Linked DNA regions of Homo sapiens: region 2 is linked to region 1. The links come from fine-mapping of genetic effects on gene expression. A gene starts in region 1. The other region holds a variant in brackets. All regions are shown on one strand. Distances are between the middles of the regions.

Region 1 (5,381 bases):
CACCCCTCTTGGGATTTGCCCTTAGTATTAGGCCAAGACCCAAGGCAGGCATTTACGCAGGATGGCCAAACCTGGCTGGGAGCCAGCTGCAGGCATCTGCCACCACCCCTTCCCTCTGAGTCACCCCATACTCATCCGTGCAAGGCGTAGAGCCCTGAGACGTGCTCACTGGCATCTTCCAACACGAACTCCAGGGGGACGATTGGAAGGAAGGGTGGCCGTGGAGTGGGGAGGAGGGGGAGCGCGGGAGAGAACCGTGCTCCCACCAGGCCTGGGCTTGGGCGTGAGGAGCTTTAAGTGCCCCACTGCGGCGTTAGGATAGCCAAGGCTTTAGCCTTGGATGCTGGCCCAGACCCTTCGGGGGTCTCACAGACTGCAGGACTTGCAGCTGCTCCTCCCTGGCTGCCTGGAGGCCGGCCCTCAGGCCGCGCAGCCATCTGTCGTGGTTCGCCTGTGAGGAGAGACTTGGGAGGGAGGGGCTTTCTGAGGCCTCTATTTTTTTTTTTCTCCTGTTCACCTTCCTTCTCAAAGCCCGACTTGATCTATGAGAACCATCTCCCCTACTGTCTCCTGACTGGGGAGAAAAGATGTCAGCGGATAGCCTCAAGCCCCCCCAACAACCTGCACTAGACTCTCTTGTTACAGTACACGTTCCTGGGTCTCGCCCGTCTGCTGACTGTGCATCACCAGGCGCTCAGCCATGCCTTGTGTGCACTTTGGACCAGCTTTGCAGGAGAGAGGCCTCCTGTTTCCCTGCTGCTCTTTTATCTGAGGAACAAAATCATGGGCCTTCTTGCCTACAGTCCAACTGGTCATTGAGTCTAGCAGTTTCCCCCCAAATCAGTTTCACCCATGAAGAGAGATAAGTAAATCCTTGTGCAATTGCAAAAGAAAAAAAAAGAATCCAGAGTATTTTTCAATGGTCCCAAATGCCGAGGCACTGCGGTTCAGCCAGCTACACCTTGTCTGGAATACTGTCGACAAACTAGAGTCCTGCCAGATGCACTTGACAATGAAATCAACCCGAGCATCACCAATCTCTGGTGCTGGACTCAGCTGCCACCACTTTGACAAAGTCTGGAGTGCAGTGAGTGAGGACACTAGGTGATGGGTGGGGAGCCCCGCCCGCTGTGGCCGGGGTTCCTCACATTTTAAATATCTGCCGTCGTCTTGCTGCGGGGCGGTCCCTGTGCTCACTTGGGCAGAGGGAAAGGGGGTAGTTTGTAGGGAGGGGTTACGAAACTATGCCTTTAGCCTCTTCCTTCCTCCAGAGCCTTCCCTTGAGTCTAGCGTCCCCACTACAGGCTTCCCCCGACTTTTATTCTCCAAGCGGTTTTTCTGTTTGGCCGTTGTCTCCACCGCATCCAGATTTATCTCTTCTCTCCCCTATGCCTTTTGGGTCTTCTGAGAGTAGCTAATCCAATAACCCGCCAAGTCAGAGAAGGGTTCGGATGCACGAGTTCTCGCTCCTGGCTTCCTCTGAAATGCTGCCTTGACCCAAGTGAGGGGCCCGGGAATAGGCAGTGGAAACGGTTGTGTAGGTTTGGGACATCGCACCCTGCTGGGACTTACCTGTTGGAGAAACTGGGCTTTTGGTGGCAAACGAATCATTCTTCCTACCTCCGTGGCAGCTGTGCATCTACGCTGGGTTCTGGAAGGCGCAGTGCTGGCCATTTCAGCTCGTAGGTTGGGAAGAAGGGGCAGTGTGCCCGATCTGATAGGTGTAACACGCCATGGTGCTTTGGCACCAAGAGGCCAATTGAAACTGGAGAGTTTTAGAGAATAAAGTATGACCGTCACCCACAGCACAGCTGCTTCCTGAAAATTCCACTCCCGCTGCATGAAAAAGCACATGGAGTATTCCAGGATTCTTAATATAGGCATTTTCCCACGTTCTGTAGATTGCTTGTTTTTCTTCCCCTATCCCATGGGTCTGCTGGTGGCTGACTGGCCACTTTTTGGTCAGCTTTATTGAGGTGTGATTTACATATAATGCCCTTTGACTGACAGTATACAATTAGATGGGTTGTCGTAAGTGTGCACAGTCATGTGACCACCGCCACAGTGTGATCTGGAACATTTCCACCACTCCACAAGGTCCCTCTGACCCTTTACAGCCTCTGCCCTTCCCCACCTCCACCTTCAGACTTGAGGGTGGGTCCATGTCTTACCTTTGTGTATCCCATGTCCAGCGCAATTCTGAACCCAGGTGGACACAAGTGATGTTTAAATGAGTACATTAGGAGGCCTGGCTTTTTTTTTTCCCCAGGCTGGAGTGCAATGGTGCGATCTTGGCTCACTTCAACCTCCATCTCCCAGGTTCAAGCGATTCTCGTGGCTCAGCCTCCTGAGTAGCTGGGACTACAGCATGCACCAACACGCCCAGCTAACTTTTTATAGTGTTAGTAGAGACAGGGTTTTGCCATGTTGCCCAGGCTGGTCTTGAGCTCCTGAGCTCAGGTGGTCTGCCCGTCTCCACCTCAAAGTCCTCAGGTTACAGGTGTGAGCCACTGTACCCAGCCAGCTCTGGCATATTTTAAAAATCCTCCCAAGACTCCTTCTGTCTCCTCCCATTGATCCTAAATTTTGAAGGATTGTCCACCCAAGCATTTGTTAATTAGTAATTTCTTCATTTAGTCACTCACTCCTGGTACCAGCCTTCCTGATCAGCCTGAGATAATCAGCGTGACCGAAGTTGATAACATTCCAGCTGAAAGCAGAGACTTGCTGTTCTCGTTTGCCTATGCAGTCACGGGTGAAATGTGCAATTTCCTTTCCGTTCCTTGAGTGCCTGCGAGCACTGCGAGAGCCTCCATTGTTACTTTCTGTTATCTCTCACCCTAGACCAGAAATCGCCAGCCTTCACCACTGGCCTCTGCCTTTTTCTTTTTTCTTTTAATAATAAATGAGGAAGTTAGCCCTTGAGCAATTTAGGAGTTCACCCAAGAGCACCCCAAAAGGCTTGAAGTTTACAGGGATTTTTCTCTGTCCCAAACTGTTTGTTGTTGTCATAGTTGTTGAGACGGAGTCTCGCTCTGTCGCCCAAGCTGGGGTGCAGTGGTGGGATCCTGGCTCACTGCAACCTCCGCTTCCCGGGTTCAAGCGATTCTCCTGCTTCAGCCTCCTGAGTAGCTGGGACTACAGGCGGCCACCACCACGCCCAGCTAATTTTTGTATTTTTAGTAGAGACAGGTTTGGCCAGGCTGGTCTAGAACTCCTGACCTCAGGTGATCAGCCTGCCTTGGCCTCCCAAAATGCTTGGACTATAGGCGTGAGCCACTGTGCCCAGCCTGTCCTAAACTTTGTCACCAAGGATTTGATGTGTCCCTTCATTCTGCCTTCCTGAGCTCCCTTTCACTTGTACGTTGGGGAAGGATCTTGGCAAACCTGAAGGTAAGGTGGAATCTGCCTCTTTCCTCTCATCAAAGCTCTGAGAAGGAAGAATCTGTAGTGTCCCTGGGTTCAGTAATCATAGTATATTGCCTCTAAACTCAGTGAAGCATTTTAAAGTGATAACTCATGTTTTCCAAATGAGTCCCAGGCATCACAGCCATGTCTTTGTTAACTCATATGTGGTTCTATACTTCTATATGTTAACTCATTTTCCAGTAGGAACTCCCATGATTCCCAGTTTTTAGATTAAAAAACAGAGAAATGAAGTAACTTTCCCAGGGTTACATAGTCACAAGATCACCTATTGCTACATAACAAACCACCCCAAAACTTAAAAATATGATTTGAAATCATCTTTCATGGATTTAGGAGTCATCTGGCTCAGCTGAGTTCTCACTGGGGGTTCCTCCTATTTGAAAAGTCAGGTGGCAGCTGAGCCTGGCACATCCTAGAGGCTCCTTCACTCTCACATCACTCCCTGGGGCTGGCCGTGCAGCTGTTTCTCCATCCGTGCAGCCTCTCCACGTGGCTGGCTTGAGCTTCCTCATAACATGGTGGTCTTGGTGCAGATTCCTAACGTGGCAGCTGGTTTCACCCGCGGCAGACATTACAAGAGATCCAGGAGGAACTGCGAGGTTCCTTCTCACCTAACCCAGAAGTCAGGTGGTGTGGTTTCTGCTGCATTTCTGTTGAGCACAGCTGCCCCAACTCAAGGATGGAGGAACAGATTCGCCCACTCAACAGGAGACAGCACATGTATGCAGGGAGGGACCACATTCCTAGTGGCTGTCCTGTGGGCTACTTACCCCATGGAGCCCCTGTGCCTGCCATGCGTTGAGCCACTTCCGCAGCGGCTTTCAGACTTTGACAGTGAGCCACGGCGAGGAACTTCACATCATGACCTATTGGATATAGACATCCCAGAAAACTCCTGGAGCTCTGGTTTTGTTCTATGAACAGCAGCCGCAACAAAACCTGTGTGTCCTGAGTGGATTTTATGACCTATGTCCTACGTGCAGTTTGAGAAGCAGTTCCACAGGATGCCACCTCAAGTGCCGACTCTGTGCCGCGATGGAACACCACGGAATAAAGAAAACAAATGTCAATTTGGGTTACACAGATGCCACGTCTTACCAACCCAGCAAAAGTCCAGGTGTTGAACAAAATAGCCTGTTGGTGAGTCAGTGCGGGAAATAGACTCTCCTACATCATAGTTAGGAGAGCAAACTGTCCAATGCTGAGGAGGGCTCGTGGTGACATCCGTGTCCCCACCCAAATCTCCTCTTGAATTGTAATTCCCACATGTCAAGGGAGAGAGCAGGTGGAGGTAATTCAATCATGGGGGTGGTTTCCCCCATGCTGTTCTGTGATAGTGAGTTCTCACGAGATCTGTTGGTTTTATAAGGGGCCCTTCCCCCTGTCTGCACGTGGCAGAAATAATAAATGCACTGACCTGCAAGCAGCAGCCACACTTCTGGGAACTTATGCTGGAAATATGAAGTATGGACCAAGTTTTTATTGTATTAATTCTCTGTAATTGCCAAAGATTGAAAGCAGCCTGCGTCACCTACAGGGGACTGGTTAAACTAGAGCATTCCAGACAAAAGCATATGACGTGGATACCCCCAAATCCCTACGTGCTGATATTGAAAGATCTCCCAGATAGGCGAGGCAGTAAGACACGAGCAAAACAGATAAGAGACAGGGAACAGCCTTCATATTTGCATTTGCATAAAGCAACCCTAGCTGTCTACGCAACTAAAAGTGGTTCCTCTGGGGACATGGCATGGCTGGGCCAAGGGTATGACTCTTCAATTACAGGTTGTTATGTTTTGACTTTTGAATCCTATTAATTTACTTTTTTTTTTTTTTTTTTTGAGACATAGTCTCGCACTGCTGCCCAGTCTGGAGTGCAGTGGCGCGATCTCAACTCACTGCAACCTCTGCCTCCCAGGTTCAAATGATTCTCCTGCCTCAGCCTCCTGAGT
Region 2 (5,381 bases), 190 kb before region 1:
TCTTGAGTTCAAGTTTTTTTTTTTTTCTGAGATGGAGTCTTGTTCTATCACCCAGGCTGGAGTGCAGTGGCATGATATTGGCTCACTGCAACATCCGCCTCCCGGGTTCAAGCAATTCTCCTGCCTCAGCCTCCCAAGTAGCTGGGATTACAGGTGCCTGCCAACATGCCAGGCTAATTTTTGTATTTTTAGTAGAGACGGGGTTTCACCGTGTTGGCCAGGCTGGTCTCGAGCTCCTGACCTCAGGTGATCCGCCCACCTCAGCCTTTGAGTTCAAGCTTCAGTGGGGACCTATTCTGCTTAGAGGACATGGGAATAATTGGCATGGTTAAAGTAGAGAAAGTGTATTATTGAAGTACACCAGGGGCTTGATGTAGAAGGAACCCCAAACTTCAAGTAGCAGAGTTTAGACTTTTTCTTGTAGCCAGTGTAAAATCATTAGAAAGGTATAAAAAAATCTCATGTTTTGATCAGAAGACTTAATATGGCAATAACCCCCATACTAATCTACAGATTTAGTGCAATCCCTATTGCAATCCCAGCTGGCTCTTTTTAAAGAAATTGATCCTAAAAGTCATATGAAAAGGCAATGGACCTAGATTAGCCAAAATAATTTTGAAAAAGAAAAATAAGGTTGAAGGGCTTTCTGATTTCAAGGGTTACTACAAAGTGATAATAATCAAAACAGTGTGCCATTGGTGTAAGGATAGACACAGAAACCAGAAATAAACCATGTGTCTATGGTCAATTGATTTTTGACAAGGGCCAAGACAATTCAATGGAGAAAGTATAGTCTTTTCAATAAATTGTGCTGAGGCAACGGAATATCCACATGCAAAAGAATGAAGTTAGACCCCTACCTCATATCATACTAAAAATCAAATCAAATGGGTCATAGACCTAAGGTAAGAGCTAAAATTATAAAACTCAGAAGGAAACATAAGCATATATTTATGACCTTAGGTGAGGCAATGGTTTCTTAGATATGACACCAAAAATACAGGGGACATAAGAAAAAACATATACGTTGGAATTCATCAAAAGCAAAAACTTTTGTGCTTAAAAGACACAATCGAGAAAATGAAAAAAAAAAAATGGCTGGTGCGGTGGCTTATGCCTGTAATCCCAGCACTTTGGGAGGCTGAGGGGGGTGGATCACCTGAGGTCAGGAGTTCAAGACCAGCCTGGCCAACATAGCGAAACCCCGTCTCTATTAAAAATACAAAAAAAAAAAATTAGCCAGGTGTGGTGGTGGGTGCCTGTAATCCCAGCTACTTAGGAGGCTGAGGCAGGAGAATCACTTGACCCCAGGAGGCGGAGGTTGCAGTGAGCCAAGATCGTGCCACTGCACTCCAGCCTGGGTGACAGAGCAAGACTCTGTCAAAAAAAAAAAAAAGAAAGAAAAAAAAGAAAAGAAAAGAAAAAGAAACAAAGAAAGAGAAAAAAATCCACAAAATGGGGGAAAGTATTTCCAAATCATACATATACTAAAGGACTTGTATGAGAATATATAAATAATTCTTACAAGTTAGTAATAAAAAGACAACCTGATTTAAAATGCGCAAGAGATTTGAATAGACATCTTTGCAAAGACGTATAAATGGCTGATGAGCATGTGAAAAGATGTTCAACACCATTAGTCATCAGAAAAACGTTAATAAAAATCACAGTGAGGTATCCCTTTACATCCACTAGGACGGCAAGAATGAAAAAGACAGACAATAGCAAGTGTTGGGGAGGTGGTGGAGAAATTGAAACACTTGTCCAGTGCTGTTGGGAATGATGGGTGGGAGGGGAGGAGTACAGAGAACAGGAAAGTTCTCTCTTGCCTGAAGGGCACTCTCTGGGCTGAGTTCTCTGAGGGTGTGTGGCTGGCAATAGCAACTTTGAGGACCTCCCTTCTCATCCCTGGTGGTCTCTGGTCAGCAGTTCCCACAAACTGGGCAAGTGCATTCTATTCTGGTGACTCAATCTGTCTTCTCAGCTCCTTAAGATCCTGTGTTCTGTCTCCAGCTTCTCTGCTGAGGCCTGTCCATTCTTCTAGATAGTCCTACCGGACACCATCTAAGATGATCCCTATAGCTCTCTCTCCAACACTGCCAAAGCAAACTCTGCCATAAATACAGCTACTAATCTAAAAGCAAGTGTCCTTTGTTCTACAGCTGGTCACAGTCTTTTTATCCTTTTGATTTTCGGCAGAAAACTAACATTAGTTCACTTCTCCTCAATCCCAATATATTTCCAATTTTATTGTATTGATGTCTGAGAATGTGCTGAATTCATATCAAGTCTCTCTCACCAGGCTTTGAGCAGTAGCTTTCTCCAAAAATCTCCTTTAATCTCTAACAACATGACTCAATCTGGCTGAGCCATCTCATTGGTTCTCAGATCTCTATTTTGAAATATCTTTATCGTGGTCAGTCTAACAACTCACTTTGGAATATTACAGCTATGATTTTCATGCCTCAACCAAAACTGAGCTAACAAGAGTCCCATTTTTAACACATATGTTTTCATACTATTGGCAGCACACACACAGCTTTATACTTCACATTTTTCACCTAAAATAGCTTCTATAATATTACGTAACATTATTAGCATTTTAAAATCATGTCTGCTCATTTGATAGGTGAAAAA[T/AT]AACATCTGGTTCTCCTAAGAAGATGTACGAATGGCTAGCAAGCACACAAACAGATGCGAAACATCATGTCATTAGGAAAACACAAATCAAAACCAACGTGAAGAACCACTTCACTTCCACTAGGATGACGAGAACTTAAAAAATGAAAAATAAGTTTTGGCAGGGATATGGAGAAATTTGAACTCTTACACATTGCTGGTGGGAGTGTAAATGGTGCAGCCACTGAAGAAAAGAGCTTGGCAGCTCCTCAAAAAATTAAACCTGGAATTACCATAAGACCCAGCAATTCTATTCCTAGGAACATGCCCAAAAGAATTCAAACAAATGTATATATGTGCATGGTCACAGCAGTACTGTTGACAACAGCCAAAAGAGGGAAACAGCCCAAATGCCCATCAATGGATGAATGGAGAAACAAACTGTGGTGTATCACAGAATGGAATATTATTCAACCATAAAAAAGGAAGCACTGACACATCCACCATGTGGATGAACCTCAAAAATATACTAAGTGAAAGAAGCCCGACACAAAAAGTTACATATTGTATGATTCCGTTGATATGAAATATCTAGAAAGAGACAGAACACAGATAGGTGGTTGCCAGAGACTGGAGGGAAGGAAGCTGCTTAATGGCTAAAAGACTTTCTTTTCAGGTAATGAAAATGTTTTGGAGTTAGAGGTCATGGCTGTACAACATTGTGAAGGTGCGAAATGCTACTTAATTGTTCATTTTTAAATGATCAGTTTTATGTTAATCGTGCCTCAATTTTAAAAAATCTGGTTAATTTTTTTTTAATCGCTGGTGAGGTTGAATTTTCCACATGATTAGCCATTTGTAAATGAAATTGTCGTGTACTTTGCCTATCGGAGTAGTTTTGTTTTTTGTTTTTTTTTTTTTAGATAGAGTCTCGCTCTGTCACCCAGGCTGGAGTGCAGTAGCATGATCTCAGCTCACTGCAACATTCACCTCCTGGCTTCAAGCAATTGTCCTGCTTCAGCCTCCCAAGTAGCTGGGATTACAGGCACCTGCCAACATGTCCAGCTAATTTTTGTATTTTTAGTGGAGATGGGGTTTCACCGTGTTGGCCAGGCTGGTCTCAAACTTCTGACTTCAAATGATCTACCTGCCTCAGCCTTCCAAAGTGCTGGGATTATGGGCGTGAGCCACCATGCCCAGCTTGGAGTTGTATTTTTAATGGATTTTAAATGTACATTTTACATACTAAAAATATTAACTTTTAGTCCTGTTACATTTCCCCAGCCTACTGTTATTTAATTTTATTATTTTTTATTTGCAGCAATTTTACATTTTTTTGTTAAAAAAATAGACTTTTTTTTAGCACCTTTTCCATTGGTTTTAAGCTTTGAAATTTCTTTATTCATAAAACAGGCAAGTATTAATCTATGTTTTTATATTTTTAAATTATCCCTTAAGAAGTTTGATGATGATGATGTTTTTACAGAGACAGTCTCACTCTGTTGCCCAGGCTGGAGTGGAGTGGTGCTATTATAGCTCACTATAACCTCCAACTCCTGGACTCAAGCGATCCTCTTGCCTCAGCCTCCTGAGTAGCTTAGGACTACAGGTGTGCACCAACACACTCGCCTACTTTTTTTAATAAAAATTTTTGTAGAGATGGTGTCTCACTGTGTTGTCAGGCTGGTCTTAGAACTCCTGGCCTCAAGCAATCCTCTTGCCTTGGCCTCCTAAAGCGCTAGGATTACAAGCATGAGCCACCACACCTGGCTATGGTTTGATTTTTTAAAATAAAATTAACATTAATCCAGTTATAATTTATTTGGGTTATGGTATGAAATAAAGACCTAAAATTTTCCCAAATGGCTAATTGTTTAAGTGGCATTAAACAACAACTGCAACAAAAACATTTTAAAAGTCTTTTTTCCCATACAGATTTGTGGTATCTCTTTACTGTATACAGTGTACACTTGTACCCTTAATATTGAAAGATTTAAATATTTGCAACTTTGAGGATTCTAATGACCCAGAAAGACCATAAATGCAATATTAAAAATTGCAAAATAATTTAAAATTATACTTTATGCAAAATTAATATGGGGTATTACTGAATTTTGATTTAAGTTAAAAACGTGGGAACAGGCCACCTAGCACCTACATTTCAATGAGGTTTTATTTTCACTCATCATAAAATATTTAACAGGGGAAATTTACATCCTGTAAGGAGAGCAAAGTAGTAGTGAGGGTCCCTCTTCAGCTGATTTCTCTCCTTCACAGGAATATTTTGTGGAAACCTAAAGTTTGGTGCTAGGAAAGGACGGTTGCTCTACTTCTGCTGCCTTCGAGAGTTTCGGGAAGGACCGTGCTATTTATTGGTTTTAGAGATGGCCTATCATTCATGTGCTAGATGACCTATCAGACATTCATCAGATTCTCTTTAGTGCTTGTGATGAGTAAAGGGCGTGAGGTCAAGCCTGCCTGATAGAGGAATTCTTCCCCTACTTGCTTCCAAAGAGTATTTGTGGAAATATTCTAAACAATTCCATTGCTCCCTAAAGTTTGGAGTTGGGAGCTACGTCCTCCATCTTACCCTGTGTAGAAGCTTATTTTCTGCTCTCCTGTCGTAGTCTATTTGCACCATTTCTCTAGGGATTGTGGATTGCAACGTTTGTTAACTTGTTTTTTGAAAAGCAACAAATAGCGTATGTATCAATTTCACAGTATTTCCTGTTTTTCTCTGTTTTGTATTTATTTTCGTTCTTTGG

Evidence for each region. PIP is the estimated chance that this variant, and not a neighbour inherited with it, causes the effect.
Region 2: its variant is fine-mapped to the expression of PRKAG2-AS2 in ileum (GTEx, PIP above 0.99).

The regions. Positions count from the first base shown.
Region 1 is chr7:151,803,827-151,809,207 of GRCh38, reverse strand. PRKAG2-AS2 (PRKAG2 antisense RNA 2) reads right to left here and starts at 2,870. Exons shown (of 3, transcript NR_171033.1): 1 at 2,172-2,870; 2 at 1,573-1,836. The region is part of intron 1 of PRKAG2 (protein kinase AMP-activated non-catalytic subunit gamma 2); the gene reads left to right.
Region 2 is chr7:151,996,927-152,002,307 of GRCh38, reverse strand. The region is part of intron 5 of GALNTL5 (polypeptide N-acetylgalactosaminyltransferase like 5); the gene reads right to left. Among named protein-coding and RNA genes, the nearest start is that of GALNT11, 26 kb to the left of the region's middle. The variant T/AT (reference allele first, on the strand shown) is at 2,638.